Linked DNA regions of Homo sapiens: region 1 is linked to region 2. Evidence: fine-mapped expression QTL. A gene starts in region 2. The other region holds a variant in brackets. All regions are shown on one strand. Distances are from middle to middle. Region 1 has its middle 46 kb from the start of C11orf87. Region 2 holds the start of C11orf87 (chromosome 11 open reading frame 87).

Evidence for each region.
Region 1: its variant is fine-mapped to the expression of C11orf87 in lung (TOPMed, PIP 0.98).

Annotation. Positions count from the first base shown.
Region 1 is chr11:109,373,172-109,378,545 of GRCh38, forward strand. No RefSeq gene overlaps it. Among named protein-coding and RNA genes, the nearest start is that of C11orf87, 46 kb to the right of the region's middle. The variant G/GTGA (reference allele first, on the strand shown) is at 3,086.
Region 2 is chr11:109,419,009-109,424,382 of GRCh38, forward strand. It overlaps C11orf87 (chromosome 11 open reading frame 87), which reads left to right and starts at 3,182. Exons shown (of 2, transcript NM_207645.4): 1 at 3,182-3,255; 2 at 4,367-5,374. The coding sequence starts at 4,626. The coding sequence ends at 5,219.

The sequences.
Region 1 (5,374 bases), 46 kb before region 2:
GATTATTACACCCCTATTAAAAAGAATGAGTAGCCTCTATACTAATAGATTTGGAAAAATTTACATGATGTTCAGTGACAAAAGCAAGTACGCAGAATATGGATCAATTTTAGCCAAAAAAAAAGAAAAGATATGAGAATGTTAAAAAATGTATTCATCATGATAGATTCCATTGCTCTAACAAATAATCCCAAAATATTAGTGGCTTAACATAATAAAAGTGTGCTTCTTGCTCATGTCATAGTCCAGTGTGGGTCAGCAGGAGTTCTTTGTTTCTCTCCATTCAGCTGGCAGATGGAGAAGACAAGGATCAGGTGTGGATGGATGGTTTGTTTCTTCATATGCGTCAGGTTTTGTAGAGGCACACATTACTTTCACTCATACTCCTTTGGTCACACCTGACTGCAGGAGAGGCTGGAAAATAAAATCCAGGTATGTGCACAGGAGGGAGGAGGGAGTGCAGATATTGGTAAATATTATAAATCTCTTCCCCAAAGAGTCATTATCAGTAATAACCTGCCTGTGGTGGGGTTTGAGAGTTAGGGGAAATAAAATAATCAGAATAGACACCAAAGTCAGGCTGGGATATTGAGTAAGGAAATAATGGATTTAACTTTGGGGATAGTCGGGTTTGCTGGGAAGACCTTACTGGTGAGTTGCAGTAGGCAGTGGGGATTGCAAATAAATGATGGAAGAGAAGCAGGAGCTGGGGTCAAGCATTGAGTCATTTGCCTAAGTTGAAGCACATGCAAACTGAAGAGGCTACCAAGGGCTGAGGATAGAATATCCATTGCCTTCTATTAAAGAAAACGGGAGGAGGAAACCAAGGAAGCAAGCACAAACTACTTAGAGAAGTAGGAAGAAAATCCAGTTACTATTAGGGCTGTGGATGCTGAGTTTGATATACTCATTCAGGTTCTGAGCCACAGTGATGTGTTTTTATGAAATAATTCTAGAAGGCAAGATAGCTGAAGAATTTATTGCAGTAGGTAAGACCCTACAAAGAATTAGAGTAGGTTTTTGAGATAGAATGTGCCTCTGGCAGCTCATTTTCTCTTGAGTCAGCACTTCTCTCTCCAAGTCTCTTTCCCTTGCTTTGACTTTTTGCTCCACTGAATGACTGACTGTCTTTCTCTGTGCAGCTAACATTCATACCTTCCAAGAGAAGAGTTTATTGATTTGGGTAATTGTAATACAATGCAGAGTGCTCTTGTGGGTAAAGGTCTCTTACCAGGCCTCCTTAAATGCTGTTGGCAGGACTTCCAGTACAAACATGGTAGGTTAGCTCAGATTCCATTCCTTTCTTCTTCAGGGAATAAAACCAAAGAGAATTAAATAAAATATTTAATATGTAATATACACAAACTTTATTTTCAGTGAAACCAGGAGACACGTAAGTCTGGAAGCTCCAAATATTGCATAATGGCAGCCAAAAGCATCTACGAGGCAGAGCTGTGAGGGAAGCTGTGTCGGGTGTGGTGGGGAGTTGGGCAAGAACTGCCAAGGTACTCAGGGCACCAAATGGCAACAGACTTCAGGAAGAACTTGTACAATGCTTCCCCAAAGAAACCAAACCTAAAAGTACAGATGTTAAAATTTAAGCTGATGCTGCTGTGAAAAGAATTTATCTCCAACAGGGCTAGGGCCAGATAGTAGTCACCTGCACCGGGGCAGGTGAAGAGCAAAAGTGCAGAAAGGATCACAGAGGAGTGATTAGGATTCAAATGTACAGATTATAGGGAAATAGTTTTGAAAGAATTTAGGCAGTAATTGCTTCATGAATCCTTCTTAAGAAACGTACTACAAACAACCAAGAGATGGCCAGAAAAATTTTGGCAAAAGACTTATGGTGAGCACTGGATAGATACACCATTAGAACTAAATGAAAAAAAAAAAAGGGAAAGAGAAAAAGCAATTTTGGAATGAAGAGGTGGAAAGTATATTAAGCACGTTGATTGCTTCCTTCTGGCTCCAATTAGATCAGCTATATGTGTGTTTGTTATAATTATTGTTTGAGAAAAGCCAAAAGATTTAATGTGGAAAACAAACTTGAACATTACCAAGCAAGGTGACCAGCGTCTTTCACTAACTGATATTCTAGGGATTGGTGTTTATTTTGCAGGCAAAGCTGCCACATCACATTAATTAGACTTGTGGAAACTTGTGTTTGTCCTTTTAGAGATGACTGAGGGTGGATGGGAGCTAGCATGTGACCTGCAATCCTGGGAAGATCCTTCCAAAGCCTATTTTCATGGGGACTGCGTGGGTGTGGATTCTGCCTGGGACCCCAATGTTGGGTCTTCACAATCCTGGCTGCAGACTCTTCTTCCTTTGATTTCTGTCAGGTTCATTTTGGTTCACTGAGTACATTTCTCTGTGAGACTGATAAAGATGTCTGTCTCTCTCTTTCCCAGTCCTGCATCTCCTCAATTGTTCTTTTGATTTTGTATGTCCCAGAGCCCTTGCTGAGCACAGCTTTAGGAAGATTTGAGGGTGTAAATGGCAGGGGTGGCAGGGGAGGCCAAATCCTCTATCACCCTGGGGAAACTTCGGGCTTTTATTTTTATTTTTTTATTATTATTATACTTTAAGTTTTAGGGTACATGTGCACAACATGCAGGTTTGTTACATATGTATACATGTGCCATGTTGGTGTGCTGCAATACCATTTGACCCAGCCATCCCATTACTGGGTATATACCCAAAGGATTATAAATCATGCTGCTATAAAGACACATGCACACGTATGTTTATTGTGGCACTATTCACAATAGCAAAGACTTGGAACTTCAGGCTTTTGTATTGTCTACAACTGATTTGTTATGAGCTTATTTTAATTAAGCCTCATAGTGTATGCTGAGTAGGTCTTTTAGAAGTAAATATAGAAAACAAAAGGGAAAAGAAAAAAGGTAAGTTAATTTTCCAATAGTACAAAAACAAACCTGTCAGCTTAGTCAAATCAGTCAGATTTTATTTCCATGAAATGAATTCATCACTTTGTTAGCTTGGTTGAGTTGGCTGTTCAGTAACTTTGTCCCATGCATGGGAATGGAAGCATTGGTTAGCCCGTTTGCACTGCCATGCA[G/GTGA]TGATGGGAGGGAAGAGGTCCTTCTCTCCTTGCTCAGGTTGGTTGGAGTAGGTGGGTCAGAGTCATGAGTGAGGGAAATGGTCCTATCAACATGATTTACAGAATGGAAAAAGTTTACCTTGCTCACAAATGGCCCTTTCTTGTTTCATGAGATTTCATGAGACCCTAACACTACTTGTTCCTCCATTCTTGGAAATTGACATGAAAACACAAATGCCCTGAGGGAGGAATAAGATATGAAAACAATGTGACCTAGTCACACCCCAGTCAAGTGCATCTGTAAATAGCCCTCCAGGAGCCTACCAGGGGCCAAGTAAATGGGGCAAAAGGAGGAAGATTTTAATGGGCAAAAGAGAGGCAGGAAAGTGCAGAGGGTGTGAGAGTCTACCTGAATAAGGTGCTGATGTGGTGGTCACCAGAGCCTTGGGACCTGGGCAAGAGAAGAGTCACTAGAAGGGAGCTTAGGGCCAGAGATTACGCTGATTTATTTTATAATTCTGCATAGGACTGAACCTTCTTCTGCTAGAAATATAAGTTTCACATATATTGCACTGACCTCCTTTCCTAACCAGATCCTGAAAGAAGCCTTCTATTTGGGCTAAGAGGTGAAAATAAGGAGGACAAAGGGGCAAAGAAGGGCCAGTTATTTAAGGTAGTCAGAGAGAGAACATATGAAACACTTCAGCTAAAAATTGGCCAGAATGAAGCAGCAGTTAACTCATTCTGTAGGAAATTAGACCAGAAGGTGGACCCATCCTTCCAACTCATGTCAACTGCAGGACCATGCCAGCTCCAGAGCTCCACATGGGAACTCTCTTAACTTCCCCATCTGCCCAAGCCAGCTTCCATCCTTTCTCTTTTACAGCTGTTGATGTTAAAAGCACTCTGTAAGGAACATCCTGCATGCTAATCTCTGTCTCAGAGTCTGCTTCCCCAGGAACCCGACCTGCAACAATTTATAAGGCACAGTTCCTGTGCCGGGCACTGATACTCACAGGGCATGGTGATATTTTATTTCCAGGGGCTGTATTTCTGGGGCTCTGTGTTCACTCTCAGCCCTGTCTCATGTCAACACCCTCAACCTGATGTTCCAAAATGTTGGCTCAGCAGATAGGTACTCTAAACAAAATAAGGTACACAATAATCCTTCCAAGCAAAGGTTTAAATCCCAGTGAGTGTAAAAATAATTAGAGATACAAATCTATGGATGTGGAGCAGTTCTTTCCCACCCTGACCCATCACTTGTCTTGGCCAAGGGCACAGGCCTTTATCCTGAGCACGAAGCAACATCGCACACCACAACACCCACTCCTGGTTCCTGGCCATCTCTGAGAGAAAACTCACTGTTCTCCTTTTTGTTCAGAAAGGATCAGAAAGGTGACACTCCACAGAGGAAAAGCTGGGGCTTTTAAGTCCACCTTCTGGTCTAATTTCCTACAGAGTGACTTTTAACTGCTGCTTCTTTCTGTCCAATTTTAGCTGAAATGTTTCATGTGTTCTCTCTCTGACTACCCTAAATAGCTGGCCCTTCTTTGACCTTTTGTCCTCCTTATTTTCACCTCTTAGCCCAAATAGAAGACTCCTTTCAAGATATGGTTAGGAAAGGAGATTAGTTCAATGTTTGTGAAATTTCCATTTCCAGCAGCAGCAGGCCCAGTCCTATGCAGAATTATAAAACAAATCAGTGTAATTCCTGGCACCGTGCTTCCTTCTAGTGACTCTTTTCTTGCACGGGTCCCAAGGCTCCAGTGACCACCACATCAGCCTCTTATTCAGGCAGCCCCTGCACCTTTTATATCCCCACTATGATTGGGTTCAGGATGGTCCTGTAAAGAGGCACAACCTTGGGTAAGGCAGATATCTCTGGCCAAGGCAGTCCCCAAAGAGAGAAACAGCTGAGAGCTGTCTTTCAGGAGCACTCCCAACAGCTGGAGAAATAAATCCATAAAATCTGACACAATATGTGGTATAATACATAGAGTCAGTGCTAACTTGCATGTTTTGACCAGATGTTAAACTGGTTTCTTACAAAATGAAAAAACACCCCCTCACCCCAACCCCTATCTCAGTTAATCTTGCAACATCACTCTGCACTTAACCTAGGCAGGAAAGGGTGGGTGGAGAAGATTTATGAAAAACTACTGCCTGGATGGTGTTCAAATAAGTGGAAATATATCTGGGTACATAGATTCAATTATATTCTTACAAAGGAATAGTTTCGGTCAAGTGGTTCTCAACTAGGGGTGATTTTGCTCTCTAAAGGACATTTAGCAATGTCTGAAGACATAT
Region 2 (5,374 bases):
AGACATTGTCTTTAAACACTCTGAGCTTTAGTTTTTTCACATTTCTTATAGCAGGTACTCAGATTTTTGTTGAACAAATGAGTAAATGAATAATTTTGTATTTTGGCAAAAATAACCTTACGAGGTTGTAGAGAGGATTAATGCTAATATAGGGTTTACTATAGCCTGGTACATAGTAGGTGTTTTGCAAATAAGGATAATAGCTATTATTATTATTGATTCAATGCTGCTTAGATTTAGGTACAGGTGCCCATGTGGCACTTTTATCTAAGTTAGATCGAGATTCTTCATTAAACTTGAAAGCAAATATTAAATGCTCTTAAATATTTGGAACATGCTTATGTCCAGAGGGGCTTTCCCATTACAAGGGAAGATTATAGGAATCTCAGGAGCTTCTTGGTTCTCTACTCTTGGGAGTGTGGCTTGTGAAGTTTGGTGGCGAAAATAGTGGCAACAATGGTGTTGTCTGGAAGAAGCCTTGCCATTCAGCCAGATGTGCCAAAAATCATGTGGCAACTCAGTGGGATCAATTCCTGCAGTCCAAGAGGTGCCCATATTTGCTGTCATTGCTCTTCCTTGGGTTTAAAACACACTACCCAATGACATCCAAATCTACGTATTTAGTACATTTGTCCTCTGGGTAAGAATAAATTATGAACCTACTGCCTATTCTTGAAAGAGAAAAGACAAAAAAGGGTACTATGCTTTTGATCTGAAAACTAATGTCTTTAATCTACCTAAATCATTGCTAGTTAAATACCATTTTCTGGTGAATCACATTTATCTGCTGTAGAGTATAAGTTCTCCAGATTAAGATCTTGTCTTTTCATAGGGTGTATAAAATAATGCACACAGCTTTAGCACTCCTGGTATAACAGATGGCTATCATTTGTAACAAAAGAATAACATTGGAAGCCTTCTGACATGTCCTAGAAGCTTGGTGTGCAAGAAGAATCCCATTACATACATATTGTAATCCCATTACAACATGTTGTAAAGGTATATTCCCCATAGGGAAAGCCCAATAACTAATTCCTTCAAATCTAGAAAACAGACGACTGAGAGTTAATTTTTTTTTTTTTTTGAGATGGAGCTTCACTCTTGTTGCCCAGGCTGGAGTGCAATGGCACAATCTTGGCACACTGCAACCTCTGTCCCCCAGATTCAAGCCATTCTCCTGTCTCAGCCTCCCGAGTAGCTGGAATTACAGGTGCCTGTCACCATGCCCGGCTTTTATTTATTTATTTATTTATTTATTTATTTATTTATTTATTTATTTTGTTATTTTTAGTAGAGACAGGGTTTCACCATGTTGGCCAGGCTGACCTCTAACTCCTGACCTCAGGTGATCCACCTGCCTCAGCCTCCCAAAGTGCTGACATTACAGGCATGAGCCACCGTGCCTGGCCAAGAGTTAATTCTAATTGCATAAAAATTCTTTGCTTTACAAAATAACATTTTTTAAAAAATTTTTTATTTTTTGCTAAAGAGTCTCTTGAAATAGCCAGATCTCTTTTTGGAGAATCCAAAATTGGATTTGCTTTACAAAATGTTTATTAGACTCAACTTTTCAGGAGCAAAGCGAGTGTGAAAAAATGGGACATTGCCTGTCAGGCATCAATGGTAAAGTGTCACTTAGTCACAGCGTAAAAAATAAATAAATAAATAAAAAGGCTCACCATTCCATCCCCTAAGCCCACCAAAGTCAAATTGTCCAAATGTGGCAGGTGGCTATTGCAGGCATCTGGTGCTCTCATTCCAGTCAGGAAGGTGAGGCTAGCATTGGGGTGGGGGCGGGGGGCAGACATCAGTAACTGTATGACCCTAAACACAGAGTCCGAAGAAGGGACCCCCAGATTACAGACAGCCTTTCCTCCACATATCAGACCCTCTTTCTTTACAAATACAGCAAATACAAGCAGATAACTGGGCATCAGTCATTTCTGATGCATTGCAGGAAAGAGCAACAACATACACTGTATCATTCAATTTATCAAGTAAACTACAGGCACTGTGCTAGACTCAAAGATAGAAAAGAAGACAGGGAGCAAAGAAGAAAACGCACGTTTAGTAAGACACCTGAGTGCCTTCAAAGACCATGCAATGTCTTTAGGTACTGTTCCCAGCTAGCTTCTCCAACAGAAAAATGAGCATACTCCATTTCAAAGCTGGATTCTGTAACCAAATGCACTATTCATATTTTTCCAAGGCTCCTAAACCAATAGTTAACTAGTCTCTTCCAAGATTTAGGGAGGCTGTTGAATTCTTTTCTGGAAGTTCTATGTATTTTGCTAAAAGTTGTGCTCCAAACACTTTACCAAGAATTAGGGTCAATGAAGGGGTACTTTGTGCAAGCTACAAATACTTGGAATTTTCATAAGGCAGTTCATTTCTGCCTTCCTGTGAATAATTTCATATTTCTTCCTTGTAAGACTAGGGTTTGTGTGCTCATGAGTGTCTAGATTGTCAGAATAGAAGGAGTGTTTAATACATTGAGTGGGTCTGGGGCCTGGAGATGAAGATGTGAGGGATGCAAGAAGGAGGATCTTGAATCAGATGGAGCGAAAGATAACTTGGAAACTCCAGTGGAGAAAAATGGCTAATTTGGATTGTTTAATTTGTTCAGGTTTGTGTTTTGGGTTCTGTCACACTTATGTTGAGAAACGTCCCTGCCATCTCTCTAATGCACGCAGTTTATGTTCAGAAACGGGCAGCACAGAGAGGAATTAGCGGTGGGGGAAATTTTCATCACCACCGGTGATGTGTGCACCGATGGTAGATGGCTATCCAGAGTGTAAAAATGTGATTCTGGGACCAAAGGGTCAGCTCTAGAACGAAATCAGACAGCTGGAGAACTGAAGATTCAACTCTTCCTAGGCAAGAGAGTGAGAAAGGTGGGTTGCTTGCAGGGTGGAGGTAGGGGTTGCTCCTCCTAGTTCCTGGGCTGGAGAAGGGCAGGGAACTGGGAAGTGTGTGTCAGAGGCTCGCTATGCTAGGACAAGGTGTTGGGGTACTAGGGTGGGTGGGGGCCTGAGGGGTGGCTTGGAGCCCTGGCGGTGGCTGCCTGACGTCACCGGCCTCTCTGGCAATAGGCTGCGAGCTCAGCTCCCTGAAGCGGCGGCGAAGGCGGCGGCGGCGGCGGCGGCGGCGGCAGCAGCGCGGCTCGGTCTCTGGTCCATTCACTCCACGCTTTCTGCAGCCGCCACTGCAGCCGCGCGGCGGGGGCTCCCTCCTTGCAGCCAGCCGGCGGTCCAGGTAAGAGACAAGGTGTGAGTAAAGGCTTCTGATGGCCGGGTGGCCTGACGGCCAGGTGCGAGTGGGGAGGACAGCTCACGCGGCCTGAGCAGCCACCCCTGGCCATAGCTCCAGCCCCCGCCCCTGCCCCCGGCCCCTGCCCTGGCTTGCTTGCGCGCTACCTCGCTACTCCGCAGTGCAACAGTTTGCAGCTGCCTCTTGGGAGCAGCAAGGAGGCTCTCCTGTGCGCTGCGGGTCTACCGGCTCCAGTATGCCGGAAAAGCCTCGGGGCCTTTGGGCTGGGTCTGGGAAGGACAGAAAGAAGGTCCCGTTCCCCAAACTTTGCAGGCGGGAACCCTCCCCTTTCCATTCCAGCTCCTCTAGAAAGAAGCAGGCTACTGCCAAGTTGGGGGCACAGGGAAATGGGGAGGAGGGGGCCGTTTGTGGGAATGTGTCAGCTGAGAAAGATGCTTCAGCTGCTTTTTTTTTTTTTTTTTTTTTTTTTTGGAGAGGGGAGAATACCAGGGAAGAAGGCTGGAGAAGAGATGGAGCGCGTTCCTGCGCGTCAGCCGCGGTCGCGGACAGAGGCAGAGTGGGATGTGGTGCCAGGGGTATCCCCCTGGGAATGGGACCCAAGGGATCTGACGCTGTCCAGGGAGGGCGAGTCTGGACGGGGAGGGAAAGGAAGGGAGGACTGCGTACCCGGAGCCCGCGCGGCGGCCCGGAGTGGGTGCTGGGAAGGGTAGGATCCAGGCGAAGACATCAACCGAGAGGGCGCAGAAAAGAGGAGAGCCGGCGCTCTGGGAAGTAGGGACTTCAACCAAAGCGGCTGCGTGTCTGTTGCAATTATAAAGTTGTGAAGGGCGGAAGGGAGGCTGCCTTATCTGCTGAGTAATCTGCACCTCCGCGGTGCCGGCGCAGACCCCATCCTGTCGAGTGGCATGAGCAGGCTGCTGGTGGCTCTGGTGCACGGCCACGGGCCGGCAGGCTGGGGTCCGCTGACCGAAAATACAGGCAGCGCCCAGCTCAGGCAGTGTGCCCAGAGGGCCGCTTTGCGGTGGTGGTTGATCTTTCCCGACAGCACTCCCCTGGGCAGCGGCCGAGATTCTAACTAAGCTTTGTGTCTTTGCAGCCTGGTGCCTCTGCAAAGGAAAGGGGAGCGTGGAGACGTGTTCGAGGTGGTATCGGCGAGGATCTCTCGGGCGCCGCTCACTCCTTGGTCGCCTTGCTTGCCAGCAGTTGCTCCCTTAGTCCTTGGCTCGCTCGCACACCCCCTCCCGCTACAGGGAGCAGTTTTGGGTGGCGTGGGCTCCGTCCTCTTCTTGGCTGGTAGGAACGGTGTGCCCAAGAGGGGAAGCCTAGTGGGCCTGGCCCCTCCCAGCCCCGCGCCAATGAGTGCCAGGGCGCCGAAGGAGCTGAGGCTGGCGTTGCCGCCGTGTCTCCTCAACCGGACCTTTGCTTCCCCCAACGCCAGCGGCAGCGGCAACACGGGTGCCCGCGGCCCAGGCGCAGTAGGCAGCGGCACCTGCATCACGCAGGTGGGACAGCAGCTCTTCCAGTCCTTCTCCTCCACGCTGGTGCTGATTGTCCTGGTTACCCTCATCTTCTGCCTCATCGTGCTGTCCCTCTCCACTTTCCACATCCACAAGCGTAGGATGAAGAAGCGGAAGATGCAGAGGGCTCAGGAGGAATATGAGCGGGATCACTGCAGCGGCAGCCGCGGTGGCGGGGGGCTGCCCCGACCTGGCAGGCAGGCCCCAACCCACGCAAAGGAAACCCGGCTGGAGAGGCAGCCCCGGGACTCTCCCTTCTGCGCCCCTTCCAACGCCTCGTCGTTGTCCTCTTCGTCCCCTGGCCTCCCGTGCCAGGGTCCCTGTGCTCCTCCGCCTCCACCGCCAGCCTCCAGTCCCCAAGGAGCACACGCAGCTTCCTCCTGTTTGGACACAGCTGGCGAGGGCCTTTTGCAAACGGTGGTACTGTCCTGATCGTCTAGCCCCTCTCGTTCCCCGTCCTCGTTTCCAGCATCTTTGCCACCCTTGCTTTTTTCCTTCTTCCTTCCTTTTCCATTTTCCTCTGGCCCCTCTTTCCTCTTCCTGGTTTCCTTACCTGCCCTCCCCTTACTCTTGTTTCTCCTCCGCCG